Linked DNA regions of Homo sapiens: region 1 is linked to region 2. The links come from fine-mapping of genetic effects on gene expression. A gene starts in region 2. The other region holds a variant in brackets. All regions are shown on one strand. Distances are between the middles of the regions. Region 1 overlaps JMY (junction mediating and regulatory protein, p53 cofactor). Region 2 holds the start of JMY (junction mediating and regulatory protein, p53 cofactor).

What was found.
Region 1: its variant is fine-mapped to the expression of JMY in monocytes (Schmiedel 2018, PIP 0.90).

What each region holds. Positions count from the first base shown.
Region 1 is chr5:79,313,504-79,328,988 of GRCh38, forward strand. It overlaps JMY (junction mediating and regulatory protein, p53 cofactor), which reads left to right. Exons shown (of 11, transcript NM_152405.5): 9 at 754-1,348; 10 at 2,497-2,807; 11 at 8,103-13,708. The coding sequence ends at 2,804. It overlaps LOC102724530 (a long non-coding RNA gene), which reads right to left. Exons shown (of 3, transcript XR_001742756.1): 3 at 3,506-4,131. Among named protein-coding and RNA genes, the nearest start is that of JMY, 85 kb to the left of the region's middle. The variant GTCTTT/G (reference allele first, on the strand shown) is at 6,838.
Region 2 is chr5:79,227,484-79,242,968 of GRCh38, forward strand. It overlaps JMY (junction mediating and regulatory protein, p53 cofactor), which reads left to right and starts at 8,648. Exons shown (of 11, transcript NM_152405.5): 1 at 8,648-10,199. The coding sequence starts at 9,168. LOC124901011 (a long non-coding RNA gene) reads right to left here and starts at 8,540. Exons shown (of 2, transcript XR_007058836.1): 1 at 8,328-8,540. RefSeq lists enhancers at 2,214-2,293, 9,102-9,738, 9,790-10,209 and silencers at 8,550-8,599, 8,640-8,689, 8,720-9,159, 9,330-9,599, 9,883-10,177.

The sequences.
Region 1 (15,485 bases), 86 kb after region 2:
TCTCTTCATTCTGTCATAAAATGGATATATAGTTGATGGAGCTTTTTAAAAATGCCAAGTAACCTGTTAAAGAATATTTTAATTTTCTCGTGTGTGCATTTGAAAACATAGGAAACTTTTTGCATACCAGTAGCATTTATACATTTGACATCACTTATGTTTTGCATTTTACATGCTATTTGTTTTATACATTTAGTAGTTTTATTCACTAAAAATCTTTTTTTAATCATAATTTTGAATATTTGAATTATCAATCGTGGATTTGATAGGCAAATAATAAATTCATAATTGTTTGTAAGCTATTATTAGGTACTTTCGGATTTTCTGTATAACTTTAAGGGTGAAATAACCAATAAGCCAACATAACATTTTTGAGATGGAATCTCACTCTGTCACTCAGGCTGGAGTGCGGTGGCACAATCTCGGCTCACTGCAACTTCCGCCTCCCGGGTTCAAGCAATTCTCCTGCCTCAGCCTCCTGAGTAGCTGGGACTACAGGTGCCTGCCACCACACCCAGCTAATTTTTGTATTTTTAGTAGTGACGGGGTTTCACCATGTCGGCCAGGCTGGTCTCAAACTCCTGATCTCAGGTGATCCACCCGCCTCGGCCTCCCAAAGTGCTGGGATTACAGGCGTGAGCCACCACACCCGGCCACATAACATCTTTTATTTGAAGGAGAAAATAAATAGGCATGTGCTCATAAATTGTTTCAATAACATTTAACCAGTTCCAATAACTTCTGGTATTTTAGAGGTATCCTGGGCAAGTCATACTTAAATCAACCAGATTACGACTAGCTCATGCAAGAAGAAAAGGTGCAGCAAGTCCTGTTCTCCAAGAGGATCATTGTGACTCTTTACCAAGTGTGTTACAGGTAGAAGAGAAAACTGAAGAGGTGGGAGAAGGAAGAGTCAAGCGTGGGCCATCACAGACAACAGAACCCCAGAGCCTTGTGCAACTTGAAGATACTTCATTAACACAACTTGAAGCCACCTCATTACCTCTCAGTGGTGTTACCTCTGAACTGCCTCCCACTATATCTCTTCCACTTTTGAATAACAACCTCGAACCATGTTCTGTTACCATAAATCCACTCCCATCCCCTCTTCCTCCAACACCACCACCTCCCCCACCTCCTCCCCCTCCCCCACCACCACCACCTCTGCCTGTTGCTAAGGACAGTGGCCCAGAGACACTGGAGAAAGATCTGCCTAGAAAGGAGGGGAATGAGAAGAGGATCCCAAAGTCAGCCAGTGCCCCCTCAGCACACCTCTTTGACAGCAGCCAGCTGGTCAGTGCACGGAAGAAGCTCAGAAAGACTGCTGAAGGTTTGCAGAGGAGGAGAGGTACGTCAACATATTTTCATGGTCCATCTGTTGTATGACATCAGGCATAGTAAAAAACTATATTTTTTGACGTTGCAAAGCTTAAAACACTTTATTTTTGACATTATTTGATAGTAAACAGGTTTTCAAAGTCACACTAGAGGAGAATTCTTAGTGCATAAAGTACACAGAAATGTATGCCTTCTTGGGCTGTTAGGCATGTTTTAAAAACAGATCTTCTAAAGTGATACATTCATGTTTGGTAATGTATAATGGGTGGCTCCTTTTGTGTTAGGGAAAAAGTTTTGATTTTAAACCTGAGATTTTTAAAAAAATACTCATATCAGAAAGGGTAAGATATCTGGTAAGGACTGTCACCACAGGGAAGACATTGGCAGGATCATGTAACATTTGTTCATACATTTGTTGAGGACTTTTGTGTATTTGTATAAAGAAGCAAAGAAGAACAGGGAGTAATCTGTTCAACTTACAATGTGACAGATGTGCCTCAATAAGGTTACTATTTTTTTTTCTAATTTTTTTTGTTAAGAGAGATTCAAGCACAAATAAAATTATTTCTAAAAAGAGCAGAGAATAACCCTTGCCTTTTGCCTTTAAGGAATTTGCATTTTGCATGGGGAGAACATTATATAAATGTTACATATTACTTGTATATTACATTTTAACCTGAAGGACCATTCTATAAAACATTTCTTGATGTAATCTGAGTAGGATTTCACATGTAAAACAACTAAATGAAAAAAGCACAGTCTCCATAATAAACAAAAATTAATTTTTAAAAACAAAATGTGTAACCCCATCACTCTGAATTTGGGTGGAGCAACTGCAATATGGAAATCCTTTGGGAATCACACCCATAATACTACTAAGACCACCTCCCAGTTCCCAATCTGGTCACTTCTCTCATGTAGGAAATGATAGGAATACCAACAGTACCCACCATGGATTGGGTCTTGGGATTTTCTAAAAAGAAGGATAATTAGGATCCCTTGTGTTCTGATCACCTTCTGCACACATTTCATGATCCATTTTGAAGATGGTGTTTCAGCGTCCTGTGCTTTCACAGTTGCGAACGGTAGAGGTTATACAGTTTCATTCTAATTAAGTGCAGTCCTAACTGTAATACTGTTCTGTTTCATTTTCCAAAGTGAGCTCACCCATGGATGAGGTGCTAGCCTCCTTGAAGCGTGGTAGTTTTCATCTGAAAAAGGTTGAACAGCGAACTCTGCCTCCTTTTCCTGATGAAGATGATAGTAATAATATCTTGGCACAAATAAGGAAAGGGGTAAAATTGAAGAAGGTACAGAAGGATGTTTTGAGAGAATCCTTCACACTTCTACCCGATACAGACCCTCTAACACGGAGCATCCATGAAGCTCTTAGAAGAATTAAAGAAGCATCCCCAGAGTCAGAGGACGAAGAGGAGGCTTTACCTTGCACAGACTGGGAGAACTAACAAGTAAACGGCCTTATTGTCTTTAGTAGCATTCAGTAATACAGGTTTTATATCGGATGATGAGGTTTGGGGTATTTTTTATTGAGCCTGAGGCATATCGTTTGTTTTATAACCCAATTTTAGCATGGATCACAAATTTATGAACTTCAGGTTTTACTTAATTCTGTAGTTTCTAGAAACTTAAGATAACTTTTTAATGATTATTGCTATGTAAATACTATTTTTAAAAATGTCCTCCTCATTAAAAATTTCTGCTATACAGCTGTAATTGCAAGTAAAGTGACAGTCTCATTCTTGCCCTAAAAAAACAGAAAAGGGCCTGGCACAGTGGCTCACACCTGTAGTTCTAGCACTTTGGGAGGCTGAAGCAGGCAGATCACTTGAGGTCAGGAGTTCAAGACTAGCCTGGCCAACATGGTGAAACCTCTTCTCTACTAAAAATATAAAAATTAGCCGGGCGTGGTGGCGGGCATCTGTAATCCCAGCTACTCGAGAGGCTGAGGCAAGAGAATCACTTGAACCCAGGAGGCGGAGGTTGCAGTGAGCTGAGATCGTGCCACTGCCCTGGGCAACAGAGTGAGACTCAGTCTTAAAAAAAAAAAAAAAAAAAAAAAAGGCTTTCCAGGTTCAGTGGTTCGCTTCTGTAGTCCCAGTTACTCAGAGGTTGAGGCATGAGGATCTCTTGAGCCCAGGCGTTCAAATCCGGCCTGGGCAATATAGCAATACCCCGTCTGTAAAAAGAAATCAATACGTCAATTTTTTTTTTAATGCAAAGCCTTTTCTGACAAAGTATTTCAGTAACAAACTGTTATGCACACTGAATTTTGATGTCATGTTAGCTGACCTCAAAGGAGTTTTCTAAGATCATTCTGGAAAAATTGTTGCATTGTCTGATTATTTAACTTTCTAAACCCTTAAAAAAAACTACTTATTGTCACAGTTACTGTATTATCTAGACAAATTTGCAGGTATCATTAATATATAAAAATTATCTACATATCTAATGAATACTCCTATACATATTAAGATTCTCTTTGGTTACACATGTAGCATTCTCCTAATATAATAGAGAGCTATAGTCTACTACATTTTAATATACTAATTATAGAGTAATATGGCACAGATTACACCAAATATATAGAAACATTAAAGATAACATGGTATAAATTAAACAGTATATCAAATTTATAATGATGGTAACTGAAATGTTGTAATTTGTATAAAATTTATAGAGTATACAAACATGTTCTATTAATTATTATTCTTTCTTGATGGAATATGTTTCTCTAGGCTTCAAACATTCACCAAAGTAGGGAAGACTTGAGTCCTAGAAGGGAATAAGTAAAGGAATAATTAATTCATGTGTTAGCCCTGTGAATTATTTTTGTTGAATTTCTTTTTTTATTTTAGAGACAGAGTCTCCCTCTGTTGCTCAGGCTGGAGTGCAGTGGCACGTTCATGGCTCACTGCAGCCTCAACCTTCTGGGATCAAGCATCCCAAGTAGCTGGGACTCCAGACACATGCCACCATGCCGGGCTAATTTTTTAATTTCTTTGTAGAGACAGGGTCTCCTTATGGTTGCCCCGATTAGCATAATAATTCTTAAAACATGTTTGATCATAAGAATTAACTTGGGGAGCTTATTAAAAATGGACATTCTGTCCTTGACTTAAGAATTCTGAGTAGAACAACAAAGAAAAAAAATCTTTTTTTGACAGGGTTTCACTCTCTCACCCAGGGTGGAGTGCAGTGACATGATCTCGGCTCGCTGCAAGCTCCACCTCGTGGGTTCAAGTGAATCTCGTGCCTCAGCCTCCTGAGTAGCTGGGATTACAGGCGACTGCCATGATGCCCGGCTCTTTTTTCTTTTTTTTTTTTGTATTTTTAGTAGAGATAGGGTTTCACCATCTTGGCCAGGCTGGTCTCGAACTCCTGACCTCAAATGATCTACCCACCTCAGCCTCCCAAAGTGCTGGGATTACAGGTGTGAGCCACCATGCCTGGCCCAAAAAAAAGAATTCTGAGTAGATCTAATGTATATGCAAGTACACATCTAGATTTTGAAGACATAATATAAAAATGTAATGTATGTCAGTTTTTAAACAACTGATTACATATTGAAAGATTCTATTAGTTACATTAGGTAAAATATTACTGAAAGCAGTTTCACCTGTTCCTTTGGGTATGGGTTCATTAGGTAAATATTCCTGTAGTACCTCTCCACCAGCATCTGCATCAATCAATAACTTAAAAAGGGTAATATTACATTCACCATGATTCAGCCAACATTCAGTAGTAGCATTATCCTGCTTTTTTTCCTATTATGTATACAGTTACATGTAACAGTCACTTTGTATGACTTATGTTTTTGGATCCCAAAGTAACTTCGAGTTATTTTTGCTTGTACATATGTCCACTATGCTTTGTAAAGGAATATATATATATATATATATAGAGAGAGAGAGAGAGAGAGAGAGAGAGAGAGAGAGAGAGAGGGATGCATATCAGTTTGTGAATGTCTAGACTCTCAGGTATGTCTAACTGGGAATCTTTTCCATAGTGGATATTTGTAGGTTGTCTCCCACTTTACAGTTCTTACTACCATGTGTTGTTTCCTTCTGCTGTAGCTTCTCAGGAAGCTGCTTAAGCTTGTGCCTAAAACTACCATCTTTGCACTGACTAATTCCACAGCTGGACCTTCACATAAATGTGTGTTTAGCTCTTTCATTACAGATGGTCCACAGTGGCCCATTCACAGCACACCAGCAGCTGCTCAAGTCAGCCTATCCTTGTCTGTCTCCTCCCATCCCACCATATCCTGCCTAACCCTAGACATTGCATCAGCATTTTGTATACTCAAGTGGCTGGGATGTTACTCATAGCTTCTGGCTACTAATTTAGCCTTAGTATCAGATGTTAACATGGTGCATGGTGTATACACTTTGAAAATTGCTTAAAACTTTTTTCGGGGGTGTGGGAGACGGCTGATGGCTGGAATATGTGGTACAATGTTGAGAGAGAAACAGTGAAACACTTAGAAAATATATGAGCTTGGAAGTTTGCAGTCTCCCTTTACTAAATGTGTGCTAACCCAGAAGCAAACCATAGACTAGTATGGACTGATTAGGCAGTGATGAAGTAGCTGTGTATCACTACTTTGTGATCATGGAGACTAAAAGGCTGTGAACTTTTTATCTACAAATGGCTAAGAAGGCTTTACCGCAATTTGTATTTCCCATTAATTTATTAGATTCCTTTTTTTTTTCTCTCTCTCTTTTTTTCTTTTCTTCAAGACTGAGTTTCACTCTTGTTGCCCAAGCTGGAGTGCAGTGGTGTGATCTTGACTCACTGCAACCTGTGCCTCGTGATTCAAGAGATTCTCCTGCCTCAGCCTCCGGAGTAGCTGGGATTATAGGCGTGTGTTACCACTCCCAGCTAATTTTTGTATTTTTGTAGAGATGGGGTTTCACCATGTTGGCCAGGCTGGTCTCAAACTCCTGATCTCAGGTGATCCACCTGCTTCTGCCTCCCTAAGTGCTGGGATTACAGGTGTGAGCCACTGTGCCTGGCCAGATTTCTTGATTATAGATTTTGTCATTAATGTACTTATATACTTTTAAGAGCTAATTTCTTGAATATTCATAAAGTAGGTAATGAAGGTCCCTTGTTCTGCCTTGTTCGTTCCCCTCTGAAACTCTTCTCTTTCCAGAGATAGCCATAGTCATGCTCAAGGAAATTTCTTAAAATGTATGTAATTACATAGAGGTTTAAAATAAGTTTCAGGCTGAGTGTGAACTTTAAGTTTCAGGCCTGTAATTCTGCAGTACTTCAGGAGGCTGGGGGTGGGTGGATCACTTGAGCCCAGGAATTCAAGACTAGCCTGGGCAACATGACGAAACACATCTCCACTAAAAATACAAAAAGTAGCTGGGCGTGGTGGCTCACACCTGTAGTCCCAGCTACTTGGGAGGCTGAGGCAGGAGGAAATCTGTCTCAATAAATAAATAAGCTTCTAGTTTGTTTCCTGTGAGA[GTCTTT/G]TTTTTTTTTTTGAGATGGAGTCTCACTGTGTCAGCCAGGCTGGAGTGCAGTGGCGCCGTATTTGGCTCGCTGCAATCTCCATCTCCCGGGTTCAATCTGGGATTACAGGCGCACCACCATGCCCAGCTAATTTTTTTGAAGTTTTAGTAGAGAGGGGTTTCACCATGTTGGCCAGACTGGTCTCGAACTCCTGACCTCAACTGATCCACCCTCCTCAGCCTCCCAAAGTGCTGGGATTACAGGCGTGAGCCACTGTGCTAGGCCCCTGTAGGAGTCTTCTAAAGTAACTATAGCAATGTAGTTCAAAGGAAATATAGTTTGAGACATGTAATTTTAAAATGTCCAATAGTCACATCAAAAATGAAAAGGAACATGTGAAACTGATGTTTGTAATATTTTATTTGACACAATGTAGCCAAAGTAGTATCCTTCAACACATAATCAACATTAAAAACTAAGGACATTGCTTTCTATTTCTTTTTTTCACACTAAGTCTTCAAAATTCAGTGTATGTTTTATATATACTAGTAGCACATCTCAGTTTGAATGCTAAGGATCTGATACTTAATGAGAAATGTCCTACCAAAACAGCAAAATTGTATTTAATGGAAAAATAGTACTTACTGTTTTAGATTTTTAAATCAAACTGGATTTAAATCAAACTAGATCAGTCACACTAGACACATATCAAGTGCTCATTAGCCACATGTAGCTACAGTATTAGAAAATGCAGAACTGTATTAAGTTGGTACTTTATTCATGTTCCTGTCAGCTTTTATCTGAAGAGTATGTCTTTTATATAAATGCTCCTGTGCTTTGGGTACGCCCCATAGATCTTAAGCACAACACTTTTCAATAAAATGCCCGGGTGAAGTATCCATTTAAAGATTGGTATTAATCCTGTCCTCTAAATGTTAGTCTAACAAAAACAGTTTCTACTGCATTTTGAAGACACCATTTAGTTGTTCTTACTCTAGTAGCAGTTTATGGGGCAAATAGTTTAGACTGAATTTACCTTTTTAGTATATAGTTTTCATACAGTGTTAGAGTAAAAATAATAAAAATGAAAATCTAATAGTCTTTTAAAAGTGATCAAAATCTGTATTTAGATTATTTTGTTTTCATTTTTACTGCTTTAAGAATACAGTCATGGCCTTTTGTAAAAAATGTCTTTTTTACACTTTTTGAGGGAACGTAAATACACTGTATCTTTAAAGGGTCTTTTTTTTAATGGTCTGTATTATTTTGTTTGTAAACAGGTGACATAACAGAAGAAAAATATCATTCAAGATTGGTTCTGATTCTTTTGGAAAATGACAGTTTAAGCACTTGGTTCCTCAGTTGGATAACATTAGATCCAAAGTTCATTGGTTCAGTGGTGTGAAGAAAGGAAGCACAATTGGCAGGTTATCACTTTCCAGTCGTTCCAATAGATGATGGTTAACATGAATTTTACATGTGCAATGTTCCTGACTGCAATGAAGAAAAGGCCTTCTGGAGATTTCTGTTTTTTAAGCACATTCTCCTTCCATCCACATATTTACATCCTTGTAATGGCCAGTTAAGCTAGGGCTTGCTGTAAGTTGGAAGAACACTGGGTTGACAGAGATCTACTGTGAGCTGTATTGGGACTGCTTTGAGAACCATCTTTCAATGCACTGAAAAGTCATCTGAAAAAATAGCTTCTTCCATATCAGCTTATATTAAATACTGTGACACTCTGAGAAAGTTTATCATCATGATAGCTGTAAGTCAGGCATTAAAATCAAATGGAAATACACCTAAAATGTCCGCATTACTCATTTCCAAAGGATTTTTCATAAAGATGTTCAGCAACATCTGAAAAGCTGCATTTATGGAGATACATCTATTAATATGTTCACAACATGATACATTTAACATGGCATATTTTTAGGAGTCTTATACTTTGTAAGGTTTTGAAGTTTCCGTGCTTTTAAATCACTCTTCATATTTCTTGAATTTATAATAGTTTGAATTTTATGTGCATCCTTGTTTATGGAAGGCAGTACTTTGATAATATTTCAAATTATTTTTATTTTGTTTGAATTATTGCTTGATTGCTATGACTGACATGACTTTCCTATTGAGAATCAAAAATCAAGATTCAATCATAGGGATGCAGATCTTAACTCTTTTCACAAATTACCATTTTAAGTTTTTATTTTTATGCTCCACAGTGAAAAGCATGTGCTCTACAAAGATAGAAAGTAGAGACAAGTCTCCGTGGCTGGCATTTCACCATCTTCACATGCACTGAATGGAATTTTGGGAGAATGCCTTTGTTATAGTCACTAAAATTTTAAACTTATACACAGCTTTAGGTGCTGATTTTGGCTGTGATGGAGTCCTGAAGGACACATTTATATGTTCCAGATTTTCAGCAGGATTGTTGTGGGCTTGAATACATGTAGATCATTGGACTCAGTGTGCAGTACCCTGTACATATAATTCTGCATAAGACAGATCTTGGCCTTTCTGTGGAGGGAGTTAAGAACTAAAATACCAAAAATCACTTTATTTCTTTTAAGACAATTATCTGGCCTAAACCCAGAAAGCAGTACTGGAGCAAAAGCCCAGTGTATATGAATTGGTATTCCTAGAGAAAAAAAGAAATGCTCACACCTTTGTTATTTTAAAGTGTTTTCTTGAAAATAATTAGGGAGAAAATTTTCTGGCAACAGGTTATGTAAGACAACAACTTTTTTTATTATTTCAAAACAAAACAGGCACATGCCACCATGCCCCAGCTAATTTTTATATTTTTTATAGAGACAGGGTTTTGCCATGTTGCCCACGCTGGTCTTGAACTCCTGGACTCAAGCAATCTGCCAGCCTCGGCCTGCTAAAGTGCTAGGATTATAGGCGTGAGCCTCTGTGCCCAGCCTGACAAAATCTTTTATTTATTTAAATGTTAGTAATACGTTTATTGATGAGACTAGGAGCTTCTCTGCAGCATCTTCATAATACATTGGTTTTAGTTCCCACACTATTCCCACATCTTATCTGGGAAGATTAGAAATACAGATGTAATATGGAAGCTTCAACAGCATGGGGGTGGTGATAGTGTCCTATTTGCCCTTGGTAAAATATTAAAGCGTATTTCTTAACCCAAAGAGTGATTGGTTATATGAATATATTTGAAAAAGTTAAAGCAAATTTGCAAACCTTTACAAAATCATGTATCAATTTTATGCTATCCAGTTTTTACGTACCCATGTGTCAACATTTCATATATCCAGTTCTTTGGGTGCTGGTTCACTTTTTTTCATTTATTCAAATTCAGAAAAATACGGACGGATCTAATGTTAAATTAACCAGAAACCCTGGAACATTCATATCTTGAGAGGGAATTTGCTACTCTTTTACTTTTGGGATTTCATTATAAAATAGGCTCATTTTATACATATGTCCTGTGGTCTGTCTTCCAGAGTGTGCTGTAATCATAAGTCTCTAGCAAAGAGTGGAGGGTGGAGGGTGTGTAGAACTCCACTCAGCCTCATGGATACATCTACAAGTCTCTCAACCCATCCTGTTACAGTTCTCCATGAGAGTCACCTCACACTTGGAAAAGAAGGAGGTTAAAGCAGAGTATTGTTGGCAGCCAGCTATGCCCATCCTCTTGTAAATAACTTTCCAACACACCCATTTCCTTGCCTTAAGGTGCAGGTTCCTACTTCTACAAAATTTCAAATGATTGCAGGTCAAAAACCTTTGGAGTTACTCACAAATAATAATAAAATTTCAAATAACTAGGGTCTACTTGTCCATCAAGATGACATTACCAGTGGAACCCACCTGTTAATTTTAAAGTAGCTTCAGAACCCAACAAAAATTATGTAAGCCTGGTTAAATGTCCTTTTTTCTTCTTGCCTCTAATAAAATCAGGATCTTCGGCCTTGATACTAAATATGTGTATATTTAGTTATGATGGTACTTGTAGATGCTCACATTTCCAGTTCCAAACTCGCCCGTACTTTTTATGTGCTTCAAAATATTGGACACATTTCTGTTAATATATGATTTCTGTATCCACAAACCGCTGTTTGCTTATGCTGAGTCAATTTAGAAGTTAATTTCCAATCTAGTCTCAACTGCAATGCATTTAAAATAGGTAAAACAAGTAAATGAGTTTGGGACATTTTGAGATTAATGTTACTGCCCACTTGACTGTCAATTTCAAATGGCTCCTAATGCAACCAAAATTATAACCAATGTAGCATGTGTAGGAAAGGTATTTTTAATTATTTAAAATCATTGTGTATATTACAGCAGTATGAGGAATGCCTGGCTAAAGAGGATTTTTTAAAAGATGAAGAATGGTTTTGCTTGTATTATATAGGCTTACTGAGTTTGTGAGCAGCATAAAAACAATCATTCCTTAATTCTTCATTGTGGAACTGAAATATTTCTGTAATGCATTTTTTAAAAGGAGACTCCTAGACACAGCTGTAATAGTGGGAATAGAAATGTAGAGCTTTTCTCATAACACAAAACCAGAAAATAATTTTCAGCACTTTGACTTACTCTATGTAATAAGGAAAAAAATTGTTTCCACAAAGTTGAACTATGTAGTAATATTTGGTAACATATGGCATGGCCACTTTATATCACAGAATGTGTGTCAAGTTGCAAAGCATACTTGGGCCATAGTAGACACTAAGAATTAAAACTCTTAAATCAGTGAAACAAAAACTAATGGGCAGCATTCTCTCTGTTTGGAATGGGATCAGTATACAATTAATACAATTTAATTTTACACATTCCCTAAGACACCATTTTTAAGTTACAGTCACATGAGTGTTTGTATAAATTTAAGTCAATGCTTTTAGCCTAGGCAAAGCTAAATACAAGGTTTTTGGGGTTTTCTTTTTTCAGCTTTATTATTGAAGTATTACAAACTTAACATCAGATACCAATGTGTAAAAAGTACTATTGGGTCCTTAAGGGCTCTATCAGGGAGTTGAAATTTCATACGCTTTACCAGGTTACTTGTAAAAAATGAACAGCTGTAAGACATTTCAAAACCATTGCAGACACATTGTTAAAATGCAGCCATTTGATAATGAAAGCAGAAACCTTAAGTTTTACCTAATTATTGCACTAAATGTAAATGATAACATAAAATTAAGTGTGCATTTTAAACAGATTCTATTTCCCACTTACTGCTTAGCATAGAAAAAGAGCTATGGTTAGAGGAGTGACCAGCAAGATTTATTTCAGATGGAAAAGGGGTGAGAAAGTGGAAGCACCTTACTGTTAGAGCATGTTGCATCTATTTAGTGCTACTGAACAATTCAGTAGTTATTTCTGAACTTTGCTGCAAAGTGCTCTTTAGTTAAAGCACATTAAGAAGGGTCACTGCTTAATTGCTTTGTAAAATGAAGCAATGGTATTTTTTATCCGATATAGTGTAATTTAAAAGTTTTCCTACAAAGTGAGTTTATATTGTTGCCTAAACTATGTTATGTAAGCAAAGGGTTTGGAAAGGCGGGAGGGAGTCTAGATTCGGCGAGAGTGTGCGTTTGTGTGTGTGAATGTATGAAAAGTTTCCCCATTGGGTTATTCTTAAGATGTGTTTATTGTAAAGTTTTCTACGTTTTGCCCACAGTAAATGTACAACTTCGCAATTGTAGGATTTAATTGATTGAATTCCAAATTTATACTGTCTCTTCCCTTCTGCAGAGACATTATGCCACTGTAAGGTGCATGTACAGAAAATACCTCTGAGGTTGACTTGTTAAATAACTGATGAATGTTATTTCACACTGAATCTCAAAGCAGTCATTTGTTTTGCGGGTTAGGGGAAAGTTTTGTTTTTTGCTGGTGTTTTTTGTTGTTTTTAATTAGGCACACTAAGAGTGGCTAAATTTGGGGGAATTGGTGGATAGGAAAGACCTTGAAAAGTGATGTGTAGATGAAAACACAAGGTATGGATGTTGGTTACAGAGTTCAGTTTTAACAAGGGAAATTTGGGGATTTTTTTTTTTTTTACTTGCATGTTCTATGGGTAGCTATCAAAGGGTGTAACAAATTATTCCAGCTTTTCCCAATACTAATTATATTGGTTTTAAAAAGTCTGCATAATCACTAGGTGGCATTTTCCCTTCATTTGTGAACCAAGAGGGGTAAATGATGCTACCCATACAGTGACTTCTGAGTTCTTTAACTTTGACAGAATCTCCATTGTTTCATTGAATTTCTCATTGTATTATATGTCTTTCCAAGTGTGCAAACTATAATATGTAGTTAATGAAAAATGGAAGGCTGCAGATTATTTTGCATGAATAATTAATTGCCCATTAGGGCTAAGGAGACTGACATGATTTTTATCGGTTCTGGGTAAATGAAAATTTTAATGGAAAACTCATTCACCATTTACTAGCTTTGTGCAATATTATAAAAGGTAGAAGCAAAACACTAGCACATTGTGCTTTGCTTGGCTTGTAAGGATGGCTTTAGTACCATTACATTAAATGGACAGTGTGCACAGTGTATTGTAAATGCCAACTCTTGCAAATTTACAATACTTAAATATGTTCAATTAACATCCTAAAGTATTAAAAGTACAGAGGAAAAACTAAGCAAGCATTTATAGCAATACCATGAAATCTCCAGTAATCGTTTTGACTGTTGCCTTTTGCTCTTTAGTGCAGCTTTTCTGCATTGTAATTGTATTGCTTTGTATTTCATGTTTTTTACACTCATGACTTCAGAGTTAAGTACTTGTACACCAAGTATTGCAATCACCTTTCTCTTGTTGTACATGCAATGTAACAACCTACAGTTTTGGTGCTTTTAACAATATTCCTCTTTTTCTTTAATAAAGGATATTTATTTGAATTAATTAACCTGATTTTGTTTGTTTAAAATATCAGTGGTACATATTTTCACTTCATTTCAAATAGGAGGACCATAGCAAGTTGTATATCTGTTATGACAAAAGTTATAACATGGAGAACAGGATCCAGAGACCATCCATGCCTGTATTTCTGCCTCTTCCTGAGCGCTGTTTGTTGTGACATATTTTGATGGCAACTTTCTTTGTGCTATTAATGAACTTTCTCATTGTTTATAAATATTCACAAAGTTTGGAAGTGCTGACTTCCAAATTGGAAAATTTTTAAATGGGGGTGGGGAGAGGCAGAAAAATATTTATAAAGTTACACACTCAGATCAAATAGATCAAAATCTCAAAAATAGAACAGAAAAGAAAAGAAGAAAAGAAACATAGATCCCCACCAATGCCTCAGCAGTTGTTTGTCTCACTTCCAGTGATACCCTGAAAACTGTAGTATCTGAAATTTTCCCTTAGTCTCAGGAATTTCTACTTACACGCTTTCAGAGCTAGAACATTCCAGTGACCGCAGCCAGTTTGATCTCTTTCCACCCTCAGTAAATGTCTTGCCATATTCCTCTGGTGATCTGGAGCCCTTTATATTGAAATGTGCAATAATGATTTTACCAAGTCATTGCAAGCTTATGAGGAAAATATGGTTTTGAGGAAAAGCCTTAAACAATTAAATATACTGGCCAATTTCTGTCAGAACTGTTTAATACCAAGAACAATTGAAAGGTTATTCATCCCCAAGTGCATCAACAGATGTTTTGTGTAATGAAAGACTGGTGAGAGATTGGAAAACTCCACAAGAAACCTTATATTGTTTGTAAACATTTTTCAATGGAAGGGAAGTATAGCAGGAATTAATCATATGGTTATTCTTAAAACTTTGTATAGGCTGGGCGCGGTGGTTCACACCTGTAACCCCAGCACTCTGGGAGGCCAAGGCGAGCCGATCACTTGAGGTCAGCAGTTCGAGACCAGCCTGGCCAACATGGCGAAACCCCATCTCTACTAAAAAATGCAAGAATTAGCCGGGCATGGTGGCATGTGCCTGTAATCCCAGCTACTCAGGAGGCTGAGGCTGGAGAATTGCTTGAACCTGGGAGGCAGAGGTTGCAGTGAGCTGAGATCACACCACTGCACTCCAGCCTGGGCAACAGAGCGAGACTCTATCTCAAAAAATAAAAAAAAAATAAAAAGACACCCTACTGTGAATTGTTTTGCAGATATTGTACAGTGTGTAAGTGTATAAGCCAGACGAATAAATGCCATTAAGTAGATCACCTCTAAAGTCATGGGAGAGGAGTAAGGGGAGGGAGGGGAACTTACAGTCTAGCCATCCTAGGCATATTATTTTCTGATATGCCTAGGACATGTGACATTATATGTGTATTCAAAATTACATTATACAGATGCCATACAGTGGTTCTCTGAGATGAAGTAGTCCAGGTGGCAACAACATTCCATGTTATAGACCAAAATGATCTTTTTCATGCTTAAAGACCCAAACTTCTGGGATCTTACTTGAGTAAGTAAGTATTCAAGTTATTCTGGTGGCTCAAATATCCTTTTAGAGGAATTATTTGGTCTTCCCTATAGGGCACTTTGTGACCCACCTCTTTTCAGAAACAGGATGGCTTACCTGTGCAACAAGCTCGTGGGTCAGTCCCACAATTTCTGAAACACAGGATTAACTCTGGAACTTCCAAGAGTTGTCAGAAAATGCAACCAAACATTTATTGTGACCCAGCACTTGCTGAAAGGTTTTCTAATGCCAATT
Region 2 (15,485 bases):
CTGCAAATAGCTGCTGCACTCCAGCCTGGGCAAAATAGTGAGACCCCAAGAATATAAAAATAAAAATAATAAAACTTTAAAATTTGTTAGATGTAAACTTTGTTCACCTTCTCAACTGTCTTCAATTGCCCTTCTTTCCGAAGGCACTGCCTGTATCCCAGAGCACCCCGGCACTGCTGCCCTTGCAGAGATCAGTGGCCTGCATGCCCCACTTGTTGAACCTCTCTGTGCTAAGTCACCCTTCATTTCTAGGTTGGCTGAAATGCCACACTGGAGCACAGACTCTGGCTTCCTGAAGGGCTGGATGAGGCAACATGGAAGCGTGAACTCCCTGTGGGGTGAAACTTGACTCTGAGGAAAGGAGAAATAGGAAGGAACCAGACAGACATGCTCCCTCTTCTTTCCATTTACTCCACTGAGTAAGATTTCTTCTTGTGTCCCTTTTGGGAAAACCCCCCTTGCTGAGGAAGAACATGTACAGAGTGACCTACCACGTCTCCTAAAGTGGTGCCAGGGCTCTCAGGGATCACTGTGCAGAGCTTCCCAACTTTCCTCACATCATTTCTTTCTTTTTCCTGTCTAGCCACTCGGGAGTTGAAAATAAGGATAATTGGCCATAATTGATATAATGTACAATACCAAAAAGGGTACTCATAGCAGATCAGGACACGAACTGCTCAGATCCCCCTTAAAGAATTTGCTACTGAATGCAAGGAGTGAGGCTGCATCCAGGGGATGATGAAACTTGCTACCAGGGTACTCCTAGAAGCCTGAAAAAAGCAATGGCCCTCACAGAGACTGTATTAAAATGCTTCCCATGGTATAGGGAAGAGAAAGGGAGTAAAAGGCTCAGGAAGTGGGAATGCTGGAATGGATAAATTACACGGGGCCAAAATAAGGAGTATGTTCTCCAGGAAAGCTCAAAGGACACACATTTACCAAGAGCATTAGTAATATGATGATGGCAGGGGCCCTAGCATGGTGATGAAGTTCAGTGTGGCTCTCCTCCACAGGCCAGGGTTAATGGTCAGTGAAGCAGTCACATAATTTGGCTCACGAATAGCAATGGCGATGAAAAGACCTGAACAACAGAGGCCAGGTGGTAGCACTTCACCACCAAAAGCCAGAGGGTCACAATGTCCACAGTTATGGTTAATAGAAAACAACATCCCTGGGGGCAAAATAGCTGGGCAGCCAACAGGCACTGCTTAATGTACATGATCAAAATAGAGCAAGGGTAGATGAGCAGGAGGTTGAGGGCAGTTACCCAAAAGGATCTCTCTTGCCCAGTTTCTGCACCTAAATCAGTTTTCAGACCTAGTGCCCATTGCTTTAAGAGATGGCCAGATCCCAGTACCAAGAACCCTGCAATACATAGTGATTTCTCCAGTTCTTCTGTGGAAGACATGAGTGACTGTTCACTGGAGTGAGGGATTTACTCCAACATTCCAGGAACTTCTGGAGACAGGGTCCAAGTTGACACAGATACCCAATGACTGGAAACATCATCATGGGCTGTGTTAGAGGGGGGGCCTACAGGGGCCAGTAAATGAAGCCCTGGCCCAGGAGTGAGTCCAGTGGTCTATGAAACTACCTGGTGAATATTTCCCTGGTCCCCAAATATCTCATTGGGATTGACACTGTGGCAGAGTAACCCACAGGCTGTACCTGTTGGTGGGGGCTATGATAATGGGGAAGGTCTGGTAGAAGCCTCCCAAACTGCCTCCCTCCCACCAAGATAGTGAATCAAAACCAGTATAATCCTGGAGAGGGATGGCAGAAGTTAGGGCCACTCTTAAAGATGCAGGCATGCTGGTCCCTAACCTACCTCTGTTTAATTTGCTGGTCTGGTCCTTGCAAAAACCAGACAGATCCTGGAGACTAACGTTCAACCAAGAAATAGACCTGATCACAGCTGCCTGGCCAGATGTGGTGTCTTTCCTAAAACAGATAATACAGTCTCTGGTACACAGTATGCAGCCACTGATTTGGCAAATGTGTTCTCTTCTATCTCAGTTAGGAAAGAAGATCAGCAACAATGTGCTCCAGGGCCATGTTAATTCTTTGACCATCTGTCATAATATAGCCTGAAGACATTGGGACCATCTGGACAAATTGCAGAATATCATGTTGATTCATTCATTACATTGATGACATCATGCTGATCAGGCCAGGATTAGTAAGAGAATACTATCATGCTGGAAATGCTGGTAAGGCACATGCACTCTAGAGCGAGATAAACCGTAAAAAAATTAGGTACTTTCTACCTCAGTAAAGTTTCTGCACATCCTGTGGTCAGGACATTCCCTTAAGAGTAAAGAACAGGCCTGTGTGTTGTTGCCACTGCCATTGTTGTCATGGTGGTTGTGCTGAGCTCTGTGGTTTCTAGAGCCGGCTATGTCCCCTCCCTGCCACCACCCTGAAGTGGATGTTCAAGGAGAACCACTCGCTAGAAAACAGATGCGTGCAGTTCCCGAAGATCAGAGTAAAATATCCTGACCGGGTTCCGGTGATTGTGGAAAAAAAAAGTCTCAGGCTCTCAGATTGTTGACACTGACAAACGGAAGAACTTGGTTCCATCTGACAGCCATTCAGTTCCATCTGTGGCTCAGTTCTTGTGGATCATCACAAAAAGGATCCATCTTCCTTCTGAAAAGGCATCTTCTGTTTGTGGATAAAACAGTCCAGCCTGGTGAGGCATGGTGGCTCATACCTGTAATCCCAGCACTTTGGGAGGCCGAGGCAGCTGGATAACCTGAGGTCAGGAGTTCGAGATCAGCCTTACCAATATGGAAACACCCAGTCTCTACTAAAAATACAAAAAATTGGCCAGGCATGGTGGCACATACCTGTAACCCCAGCTACTCGGGAGGCTGAGGCAGGAGAATCGCTTGAACCTGGGAGGCAGAGGTTGCAGTGAGCCGAGATGGTGCCATTGCACTCCAGCCTGGGCAACAAGAGCGGAACTCCATCTCAAAAAACAAACAAACAAACAAACAAAAACCAAAAAACAGTCCAGCCTAACTATAGGAGAGCTTTACTAGAAGGAAAAAGATACAGATGGAATCTTGTATGTGGCCTCCAGTGGGGAGAACACTTTTGGTTTCCGAGGACCACTGCTGTGCTAGGTGCACCCTTACTGCTTGTGTATCTTGTAAATGTCCTAGCACCTTGGTAAGCCAAGGCAGGAGGACAGCTTGAACTCAGGGGTTCGGAACCAGTCTGGGCAACATAAGGAGACACCCGTCGCTACAAAAAAAAATTAGTTGAGCGTGGTGGCGCATACCTATGGTCCCAAGCTACTCAGGATGTTGAGGTGGGAGGATTGCTTGAGCACAGGAGGTAGATGCTGCAGTAAGCCAAGATTGCACCACTGCACTCCAGCCTGGGTGACAGAGCAAGATCCTGTCTTAAACAAACAAACAAAAATTAAAAAGAAAAGAGAAAAAGGAGCACCAGTTGTGGCTGCGAGATCAGCTGTGGCTATGGAGGCTGTAGTTTGCCCCAATAACCTCCCTCTTTTGTTTTCCCTCGGGAACAGAGGCCTACCAGAGCCCTAGAGGAGATGCTTCCCACGTGTTTTTATGAAGTGGATCCATGTGGCACACAAGGTAAACTGTGGCAGTTGTGAAGATGTGTCAGTTAGATCCCCCTTCTAGAAAGGAGCCACCCCTCAGCTGCAAGGAGTATGGTAAGTGGACACTCCCCACCTGTTAGTGTCTTCAGCATCAGCTTCAGGTTTTTATCCTGTGCTTTTCTCAGGGTGGTCCCCAGCCAATGACTGAGCAAGGCCTGGCTATATCTACCCAATGAGAGGAACTTCTTTTTTTTTTTTTTTTTTTTTGAGACAGAGTTTCGCTCTTGCTGCCCAGGCTGGAGTGCAATGGTGTGATCTTGGCTCACTGCAACCTCCTCCTCCTGGGTTCAAGTGATTCTCCTGCCTCAGCCTCTCAAGTAGCTGGGATTACAGGCATGCGCCACCACGCCTGGCTAATTTTGTATTTTTAGTAGAGATGGGTTTTCTCCATGTTGGTCAGGCTAGTCTTGAACTCCTGACCTCAGGTGATCCACTCGCCTTGGCCTCCCAAAGTGCTGGGATTAGAGGTATGAGCCACCGTGCCTGGCCATGAGGAACTTCTTTAAGGGAAATTTTTGCCTCAGAACTCCCTGTTGGATTAGCCTGCCTGATTCTGCCTCTGCCCCTTCCCCTTCTCTTCCACAGGGGTCGCCTCCATACTTTTTTTTTTTTCGTTTTGAGACAGAGTCTCACTCTGATGCCTAGGCTGGCGTGCAGTGACATGATCTCGACTCACTGCAACCTCCACCTTTCGGGTTCAAGCGATTCTCGTGCCTCAGCCTCCCAAGTAGCAGGGACTACAGGCTTGTGCCACCACGCCCGGCTAATTTTTATATTTTTAGTAGAGACGGGGTTTCACCATATTGGCCAGGCTGGTCTCATACTCCTGACCTCAAGTGACCGCCCACCTTAGCCTCCCAAAGTGCTGGGATTGCAGGCATGAGCCACCGCACCCGGCACCCCATAAATTTTTTGCGTTCCTACTTCTCAGTGTCTGCTTCCGGGAGAATCTAACTGAGACACCAGTGGATTTGCAAATGGACCCCGGAACTGAAGTTGCTCCCTGCTCCCAACCCTGGGATGTGTAACCTAACTAATCTGAACTGCTGTTTTCTCCTATATAAATTAAAGATGCTTATTCCTTTCATACCTACATTTCATGGTTATTATGAGGTGAGAAAATGCTATATAATTTGAAAATCACTATGTAAACTATTATAGTTTTTATGAAAAGTTCTAAAGAGTTAAAGCATTTCCTGAATTACCTAAAGATGCACAATAGTTCTAAAAACTTCAAACAGATAATAGTTTTAAGCCCTTTGAAGGCTGGTATGGTGTATGTGGGGTTTTTCTGTAGCTTTGCTTATTCCCAGGGAGTAACTTATACACTGAGAGATCTTGCTTGGCAATCAGATACAGACCTAAACAAAGAATTGTAGAGTACTATAGTAACCTATCATGGGAATTTTGGTTTGTTTCTCTTCATTTCTAGGATAACAGTTACTAACATAGCACGAACAAGAAACACTGAAACATCTCATTTGACAAAACACAGTGGCCAGTGTATTGAGAGGAAATACTTAACACCTGTGTAACTGTGAACCAATTTTGTGTATCACTATTCTGATAAGATAAAATTTTCTATCCATGAATAAATATAATTTCATGTTATTTTACTCTTAACACCACTTGACGAAATATTATAATTTTAATATACGTGCACATAAAATATTTCTTATAACATTCTTTATTTCCATTTATTTATTTATTTTTGAGACGAAGTCTTGCTCTGTTGCCCAGGCTGGAGTGAAGTGGCGCAATCTCGGTTCACTGCCACTTCTGCCTCCCAGGTTCAAGTGATTCTCCTGCCTCAGCCTCCCGATTACAGCCTGGGATTACAGGTGCCCACCACCACGCTTGGCTAATTTTTGTATTTTTAGCAGAGATGGGGTTTCACCATGTTGGCCAGGCTGGTCTCGAATTGCTGACCTTTAGTGATTCACCCACCTCGGCCTCCCAAAGTGCTGGGATTACAGACATGAGCCACCACACCTGGTCTATTTATTTATTTTGAGACAGAGTCCCACTCTGTTGCCCAGGCTGGACTGCAGTGGTGCGATCATGGCTCACTGCAGCCTTGACCTCCTGAGCTCAAGCAGTTCTCCCACCTCAGCCTCCCAAGTAGCTGGGACCACAGGTGCATACCACCATGGCCAGCTATTTATTTTATTTTATTTTTTATTTTTATTTTTTTGAGACGGAGTTTTGCTCATTGCCCAGGCTGGAGTGCAATCGAGCAATCTCTGCTCACCGCAACCTCCGCCTCCCGGGTTCAAGAGATTCTCCTGCCTCAGTCTCCCAAGTAGCTGGGATTACAGGCATGTACCACCACACCTGGTGAATTTTGTATTGTTAGTAGAGATGGGGTTTCTCCATGTTGGTCAGGCTGGTCTCGAACTCCCGACCTCAGGTGATTCACCCGCCTCAGCCTCCCAAAGTGCTGGGATTACAGGCTGGAGCCACCGCGCCCGGTCTATTTTATTTTTTTGTAGAGGCAGGGTCTCCCCATGTTGCCCAGGCTGCTCTTAAACTCTTGGGCTCAAGCAATTCTTCCAAAGCATTTGGATTACAGGCATGAGTCACTGTGTCCAGCCATCCAGCCAAAATATTATTATTTTTTATTTTTTTCAGACGGAGTTTCGCTCTTGTTGCCCAGGCACTGGAGTGCAATGGCACGATCTCAGCTCACTGCAACCTCTGCCTCCCGGGTTCAAACGATTCTCCTGCCTCAGCCTCCCGAGTAGCTGGGATTACAGGCACCTGCCACAACGCCCAGCTAATTTTTGGATTTTTGGTAGAGACGGGGTTTCACCATGTTAGCCAGGCTAGTCTCGAACTTCTGACTTTGCGATCTGCCCACCTTAGCCTCCCAAAGTGCTGGGATTACAGGCGTGAGCCACCGCACCCGGACTATTTTTTTAAATAATAATTTTTTTCTTTTTCTTGTCCTCTACTCTGAAGAGAACTTGTAAACAAATTCTTTTAATACTCATTCTCTGTATTCACAATTATACATAATGGGATCATGTCAGTAATGCTTTATCAGAAAAACTAGCTTTTTGCAGTTGCTTTTTAGCAAAAAAGAAGAGAAAGTTTTCTACAATGTGCTATTGTTTGCTTAGCTGGTAATTCAAACCTTTTTTCTTTTTTCTTTTTTGAGGTGGAGTCTCTGTCCCCCAGGCTGGAGTGCGGTGGCATGATCTCAGATCACTGCAACCTTCGCCTCCCGGGTTCAAGCAATTCTCCTGCCTCAGCCTCCCAAGTAGCTGGGATTACAGGCACGTGCCACCACACCCGACTAATTTTGTATTTTTTATAGAGACGGGGTTTCACCATGTTGTCCAGGCTGGTCTTGAACTCCTGACCTCAAGTGATCTGCCCACCTCAGCCTCCCAAAGTGCTGGGATTACAGGCGTCAGCCACCATGCCCAGCCCCGTAATTCAGATTTGAAATGGGTTTTCTCTCTTTTTTGCCTTTCAGAACGTGTCTCTGACTTGCATTTGAGATTTGACACAAACTCAGTTACAAACTTTGAAAATTTGTGGTTTCAAATAATGAACTGTACAAAATGTTAAAAACCAGCTGGGCTCAGTGGCTCACGACTGTAATCCCAGCACTTTGAGAGGCCAAGGCGGTCGGATCACCTGAGGCCAGAAGTTCGAGACCAGCTTGGCCAACATGAAGAAACCCCGTCTCTAATAAAAATACAAAAATTAGTCGGGCTTGGTGGTGTGTGCCTGTAATCCCAGCTACTTGGGAGGCTGAGGCAGGAGAATCGCTTGAACCCGGGAGGCAGAGGCTGCAGTAAGCTGACATCGTGCCACTGTGCTCCAGCCTGGGCCACAGAGTGAGACTCTGTCTCAAAAAAAAAATTTTTTTTGGCTGTTTATTCAAATATCAGGACAATACTGAACCAAGTGTTGAAGCTTAGAGTTTAAGATGGACAATACTGAACTAAGTTTGAAGCTTAGCTAGTTCAGTACTGTTCTGTCATCTGAATAAACAGCTGTTTTTACTGAACCTAACAATACAAGGCTAATCCAAACGGTTTTGTATATACTTTAGAAATGTGAATAAATGTAAAAGAACTAATTTCCATTGTGCTTTACTATGGTGCACAACATCTGTGACTTGAATACTAATCGGAAAAAGAATGCCAATAATTATTATAAAGTCTACTAATTTTAAGAATGTGTTTCATCATAGTTTAGTAAGAATAGCAGAGATTGATATGACTGTTTTTGTATATGCATTCTGGGAACTCCCATAATTGAATACAACTTCAAAAGGGCTAAAGCCCAGTGACCTCAAAACGAGGTTCACAGAACAGTACATAATGATGAAACCTGAAGCAATAAAACACCAATGAACTGAAATGTAAACATTCATGCTGTTAGGACATGGCATTTTCATTTTTCATTTTGTTTTGGACTGTTACTGGGCTTTCCTCAGACACCTTCCTTTCATATATTAAACTCTGTCTTTCCAGAAAAGCTTCTGGAATTGTTTTTGTTTTTTGTTTTGGTCTCAAGGGCATTAGGGGAGAACCTAACAGGCTGGGGGCGAGCCCCACATAGTTCAGCACACCGTTCCCCGCGGCAACACGCTACTTCTGAACGCAGGAGCGACTCTCCGTCCGGGCTCCCTCCAGGAGAATGGAGGCAAATGTACATTCGAGGGTCTCAATACCTGGAATTCGAAACGTCTCAGTTCCTCCGCCTTAGTTCCTCTTTTCCCGGGTTCGGAGGCCACCTGTGCAGCAGGGCACACCTGCCACTCTCATCGCCCTCGGAGCCGGCAACCAGCCGACAGCCGGCTCCAGCCCCGGGGAACTGGAGGCTGCGCGGAAGGAAGGAGAGTCGGGAGCGCGGCCGCTCGCGGGCTGGCTCAGGGGACGCCGAGAGGAGGCGCCGGCGCGCGCGGGCGGGGTGCGCGCGCCGCCGCCGCCGCGTCACCAGCGTGCGGCACGTGCCCATGTTTACGTCCCTCGTGGAGCCGCCGACGTCAGCAGTCGAATGGCAACATTGTGGCGATGCTGAGGCGCAGAGTTTAGGAGACGGGTTCATCAGTCAGGCCGGCTCCGGGCTTTCTGCAGCAGCACCAGGGGCGGGGGCGGGGATCTTGACCTGGGCGAGCGACCGGGACGCATACAGCGCCGGCCTGACCCCGCGGGACCCGCGCCTCACCACCGGAGCGCCGCAGACGCAGCTCCACGGCCTCGCGCGGGGGGCGGCGGGCGGCCGCGAGGCGCTGCGGCAGCGCGGAGCTTGTAAACAGATCCGGCCGCAGGTGACCATGTGAACTACCTGCTCCCGGGACGCTTATTGTCCTTCTCTCGATCCGCGCCACAAAGGAGCTCGGCGGTCGGGGCGCGGAGGGACAGGCGAACGAGCCGGGAGAGCCGGCCGGCGCACTAAGATGGCTGAAGGCGCCCGGCGAGGGTGAGCGGGGGGCGCGGCGCAGCCAGCGGGGAGTCCTCGGGCGGGCCGGGCCGGCGGCCCTTCCCCGCGGCGAGAAGCCGGAGCCACCATGTCGTTCGCGCTGGAGGAGACGCTCGAGTCGGACTGGGTGGCTGTGCGGCCCCATGTGTTCGACGAGCGCGAGAAACACAAATTCGTCTTTATTGTGGCCTGGAACGAGATTGAGGGCAAGTTTGCCATAACCTGCCACAACCGGACGGCCCAGAGGCAGAGGAGCGGCTCCCGGGAGCAAGCGGGGGCGCGAGGGGGCGCCGAGGCCGGCGGAGCTGCGTCCGACGGGAGCCGCGGGCCCGGCAGCCCGGCGGGCAGGGGTCGGCCCGAGGCCACTGCCTCTGCAACTCTGGTTAGGAGCCCCGGGCCCCGGCGGAGCTCGGCCTGGGCGGAGGGCGGCTCTCCTCGGAGCACTCGCAGCCTTCTGGGGGACCCGCGGCTGCGGAGTCCTGGCAGCAAAGGGGCGGAGAGTCGTCTTAGGAGCCCAGTGCGGGCCAAACCCATCCCGGGTCAGAAAACATCTGAAGCCGACGATGCGGCGGGGGCAGCCGCTGCAGCAGCCCGGCCGGCGCCCAGAGAGGCCCAGGTGTCCTCTGTACGGATAGTGAGCGCCTCTGGGACGGTCTCCGAGGAGATAGAGGTGCTGGAAATGGTGAAGGAGGACGAGGCACCTCTGGCGCTCTCGGACGCGGAGCAGCCGCCGCCCGCCACCGAGCTGGAGTCTCCGGCCGAAGAGTGCAGCTGGGCCGGACTGTTTTCTTTCCAGGACCTGCGCGCCGTGCACCAGCAGCTGTGCTCGGTGAACTCGCAGTTGGAGCCGTGCCTGCCGGTGTTCCCCGAGGAACCTTCGGGCATGTGGACTGTGCTGTTTGGGGGCGCCCCCGAGATGACCGAGCAGGAAATCGACACTCTGTGTTACCAGCTCCAGGTCTACCTGGGCCACGGCCTGGACACCTGCGGCTGGAAGATCCTCTCCCAGGTGCTCTTCACCGAGACCGATGATCCCGAGGAGTATTACGAAAGCCTCAGCGAGCTGCGGCAGAAGGGCTACGAAGAAGTGCTTCAGCGGGCCAGGAAGCGCATCCAGGAGGTGAGTGAGTGAGCTCCTAGTCTGGGCTCTACTGGTCGCTTTTGGTTTACTGGCCAAACCAAAGGCTGGAGCCTCGGTGTCGGGTGTGCGCAGTAGGACGGTTGTTTTTCTGGACAAGCGGAAACCAAGAGGGGTTCCTGATCTACCTTGCCCTTCATCCCTCTCGGTGGCTGCTTAATTGACTCTCTGAAGGACCTTCGTCTTTATTTCCTCCCCCATTTATCAAAAGTAGTAAGTGCGCTCTGTGTACTACTCAGTACTGGTAATGCGCAATTAAAGCCACTAAGAAAAGTGTTCTGTAAGCATGGGCTACCTGAGCATTTTTCTACCCCTAAAGCTCTTCCAGCAATAACTGCCCAGATGTCAACTCTTCTTTGTCCTTGTCACCTTTATTTAAAATAGTTTGTCTTACGGAGCAAAGTTGATCTGTTTTGATTCTTCTTTGTGCAGTGTGGCAACCTACGCAAATTTTAAATTCATTTTTAAACGAGTGACCTAAGTGAAAAAGCACCTAGTGACTATCGGATGCAAATTTATTTTTAAAAGGTTTTTTAGAAGTGTTTTGTTTCTTTTTTTTTGGACTACCTCAGGTCTTTACAGATGGCTCAGGTTTCACTGCTGTTTTAGGTAGAAATAAAGATTCTGGGCAGGAATGTTCGTTGTATTTTTGTACTTACTGTAGAAGTACAAAAGCCTTTTCAAACTAATCCTTAAAATAACAAAAAAAAAGTGGAAGAAAGGGTCTGAATGGATATACATATGGGGCTCTAGAATGTGTAGGAAATGTGTAATTCATGCCTGCTCACTAGCTTCTGCTGAAGGAACTTTACTAAAAAAGTCTTTTAAAATAGACCCAGTTTTCCCTAATGGATACTACTACACGTAGTTTCTCAAAGCAAGTTACTGTTTTTACTATTAATGCAATTGAGATTGGTGGAGAAATGCACCCCCGCCCTCCGCGCCTTCTTTTTTTTTTTTTTTTTTGGAAGCAGTTTTGCTCCGTCTCCCAGGCTGGAGTACAGTGGCACCATCTGGGCTCACTGCAGCCTCCCCCTCCCGGGTTCAAGCGATTCTCCTGCCTCAGACTCCTGAGTAGCTGGGACTACAGGTGCGCGCCACCACGCCCGGCTAACACGTTAGCCCGGCTACTTTTTGTGTTTTTAGTAGAGACGGGGTTTCACCATCTTGGCCAGTATGGTCTCGATCTCCTGACCTCGTGATCCGCCCGCCTCGGCCTCCCAAAGTGCTGGGATTACAGGCGTGAGCCACTGTGCCCGGCCTGAAATGCCCCTTTTAATGGTGTTTATATTCCTAAGATTGTGTTGTTATCTGCTTATGTATATATAATAGTTGAACCTTGTTGTTAGATTAGGGAGCTAGAGCCTCATGTTTTTTTCGTAGAATATTAGATATTTTTCTTTATTAGATTTGAGTATTTAAGAAATGTTTGTTTCTCACTTATACCATAGTACTCTCTTACAACTTCCCGAATCCAGATTTTCACTGCTTCCTGTTGGTTTACTGTATGCTAAATGTCACCCACTATAACATGATCCTAGAGTTCCAGGGATCTGTTTTTATTTCCCTTTTTTATCACCTCACTTCGGGAGTCTACCTTAAATTATTTTGAAGGAAGTGACAAATCTTAAGTGACCACATATATTCTCAGAAGTGTTTGGTTAATATTGACCTGTATTTCTCTTAAACTGCAAGAACCGTTAGTGCTTCTTTCTCTTATTAGATTTACAGATATATTTTTTAAAATACATATTCTTAAAAATCCCTTAATGAATGGGCCTGTCTGATTGTAACTTTTTGGATACTCAGAAAAAGCGACTGTCAGGCCGGTCGCGGTGGCTCATGCCTGTAATCCCAACACTTTGGGAGGCCGAGGCGGGCGGATCACGAGGTCAGGAGATCGAGACCATCCTGGCTAACACGGTGAAACCCCGTCTCTACTAAAAATACAAAAGAAAAAATTAGCCGGGTGTGGTGGCGGGCACCTGTAGTCCTAGCTACTGGGAGGCTGAGGCAGGAGAATGGCGTGAACCCAGGAGGCGTAGCTTGCAATGAGCTGAGATCATGCCAGTGCACTCGAGCCTGGGCGACAGAGCGAGACTCCGTCTCAAAAAAAAAAAAGAAAAGAAAAAGAAAAAGAGAAAAAGCGACTATCTCCGGTTTTTTAATTCAAATGGGTCAAAAATAAGCTCTCAAAAAATATAATTTTCTAGAACTCTTTAAAAAGGGGATTACATTTTTTAAAAAATGTGTTCCTAATTAAGGTTCTCTTGACCATAATGATTTATTTTCTTTAACAGAAAATTATACTTTTTTTCTTTCTTTTTTTTTTTGAGATGGAGTCTCGCTCTGTCGCCCAGGCTGAAGTGTAGTGGCGCGATCTTGGCTCACTGCAACCTCTGCCTCCCGGGTTCCAGTGATTCTCCTCCCTCAGCCTCCTGAGTAGCTGGGATTATAGGCGTGTGCCACCTTGTCCGGCTAATTTTTGTATTTTTAGTAGAGATGGGGTTTTACCATGTTGGCCAAGCTGGTCTCGAACTCCTGACCTGGTGATCCGCCTGCCTCAGCTTCCCAAAGTGCTAGAATTACAGGCGTGAGCCACCGCACCCAGCCTCCCCCCGCCCCCTCCAAACAGAGTTTTGCACTATTGCCCAGGCTGGACTGTACTGGTGCAATCTCAGCTCACTGCAACCTCCACCTCCCGGGTTCAAGCAGTTCTCCTTGCTCAGCCTCCCAAGTAGCTGTGATTACAGTCGCCGCTACCATGCCTGGCTAATTTTTGTATTTTTGTAGTGACAGGGTTTCCCAGTGTTGGCCAGGCTGGTCTTGAACTCCTGACCTCAGGTGATCTAACTGCCTCGGCCTCCCAAAGTGCTAGGATTACAGGCGTGAACCACTGCACCCGGCAACTTCAATATTTGAAAAATAGCCATCAAGGACAACAAATAGTTTCAGTAATAATGCCTATCTTGACTTCTGCTGGAAGATTGTGTCTTTAGATTATATTGGGGGAGGGAGGGAAGTGTGGTGTGATTGATTGGTGATGTCTGCCATGGGCATGATAATGAAAGTGTATAGGATGCTAGCCATGTATTTGTCTTAAGCTAATTAAATTTAACTTTGCTTTCTTAATAGTTTGCAGTAACATTTTTTAAGGTAACATTTTTATAGAAGTTGTGCCATGTTTGTGTTATTCTATTGACTTAGTTTGTGGAATTGGCTATAGCTTTTCAAGCTAGGTTTATCTGATAAATCAAATGCATTCTTGAGGATATGTTACTTTTGAGGATATGTTAGAATGCTTAGTCCTTTGGTCACTTACAATACTTAGTCCTTTTCCTTCTTTAATTTCTATGAATCTATTTTTTGGTCTTTTTTCCTACAGTATTCCTTTCCCTGTCCATTTAAAGGTTTCAACTTAAAATCACCTGTTTTTGTTCAAAATGGTTAGTAAGTTGTTGAACTTTTTTTTGTTTGTTTTTAATAGAACAGACTGTACAACTAGATTGTAAGCTTTTCAAGGTCCTTGGCTTTGACAATACCTTGGAACTCTCTTCTTTGCCACCCCTAGTTCAGGACCACACATCTTGTGAGCACTCTTAATTAGTGGATAAAGGAAACTAGAGAAGTTTTTAAAATTAATTTATTCTTACTATTGCAAGAATTTAAAGGACTTAGAAGATGTGTCCTTTTAATGTGAAGTTGTAAGTAAAATTTTTATAAATTGATAAGTGTAAATTCCTCAAAGGACAGTGTTTTTAAAACGAGAAATTTTCTTTTAGTACTTCAAAGGAAAATTTCTTAAAACATAAATAAATTCCTCAGTAAGAGGTTTTTACTTGGGGATGGTGAATTCCCTGTAAGAGGGGCTATGGATGGATTTTAATGGGGCGTCCTGCCGAGTTTTATATCTGTGGGCATGTGTGCATTTTAGAGAGAAAGGCAATAATGTGAGTCACAGGAATGTTTTGGTTTCACAGTGCGTTTAAAAGTTATGTTTATGCTATAATGTACATTATACTTCTTAGGGGCTAAATCCAAGTGAAAGGTGAAATTTGTTACTGGTATGTTTGAATTTGGACTTTTACAAGAGTTTACTATTGGAAGCAGTATTTATACAGTAGACACTGAATCAGTCCTTAAATGAATGCAGGTGCCACCAAGACCTCTTTGAACAGTTTTCAGCAGTAGCCTTGGTTGTTGGTCAGAGCTGAGGTTTGTATTAGTGTATGTGCGTTGGTGGCCCATACTGCAGCTTAGGTTTGACCTGGATTTTATAAATAATGGTTTCTGTATAAGGACAGCTATTCTCAAGATGATTAACTGTGGTGCTTTAGATAGTAAACCTTAATTATGATGGTAGGCTTGATTAAGATCTAATCATCAGTGTTCATTTTGGAATTTATTATGTTTATAAAGATGTGCTCAATTCTAACTTCTCTTCTGTTGAAACCACGGTTTGGAAGTAGCATGTGTTTTCAAAATTATCCGTGTAAGCCACATAATAAATAGCCTGTTGAGTGAGTGGAGTCAGAAACACCTAGGTTGAAAATAGGACTAACCACTTCTGATGACCTGCTTAGTTATTTAACCTCTTTTAAAAAGGAAGGTGGGGGAAATAAAGGATGTCTTAAGATTTGAGTAAGACAGTATGAGAAAGGGCCTAACAAAGTGCCTGGCACTTACTAAAGAGGCTTCCAGGAAGTGTTATTTTCCCTTTTTTCATGTAACAAGGATTATCTGGTTTTCCATTCAGCCCTTTTTGTGGGGACTGTAACTAATATTTATTATTCACTATCTGCTGAGATCAGTGGGTGTTTTATACCTATTTTACTGAGGCAGAAAATGAGACTTAAAGAGGTCCTGTGGACTTCACCAAGGCTAAACAGCTGAGTAACCAAGCTCCGATGAAAGCCTAGATTTGTCTTAATCCAAACGTGTGCCTTTTCTGCCATGCCTGTGGCCTGTTGGGGTTCTTAATCCAAGGGACTGTATTCCTTCCTTAAAGAGAAAGGATGTCAATCTCTACTCTTGAGAATTGGGGAGTGGTATTATTTTAAAATGCAGTCAGTTCAATAATGACTTTTTTTTTTTTTTTTTAAAGACAGTGTCTCACTCTGTTGCCCAGGCTGGAGTACAATGGCAGTATCTCAGCTCACTGCAACCTCTGCCTTCCAAGTTCACGCAATTCTTTTGCTTCAGCCTCCCAAGTAGCTGGGATTACACGTGCATGCAAACACTCAATAACTGCTTTTGATTTAGGATAAC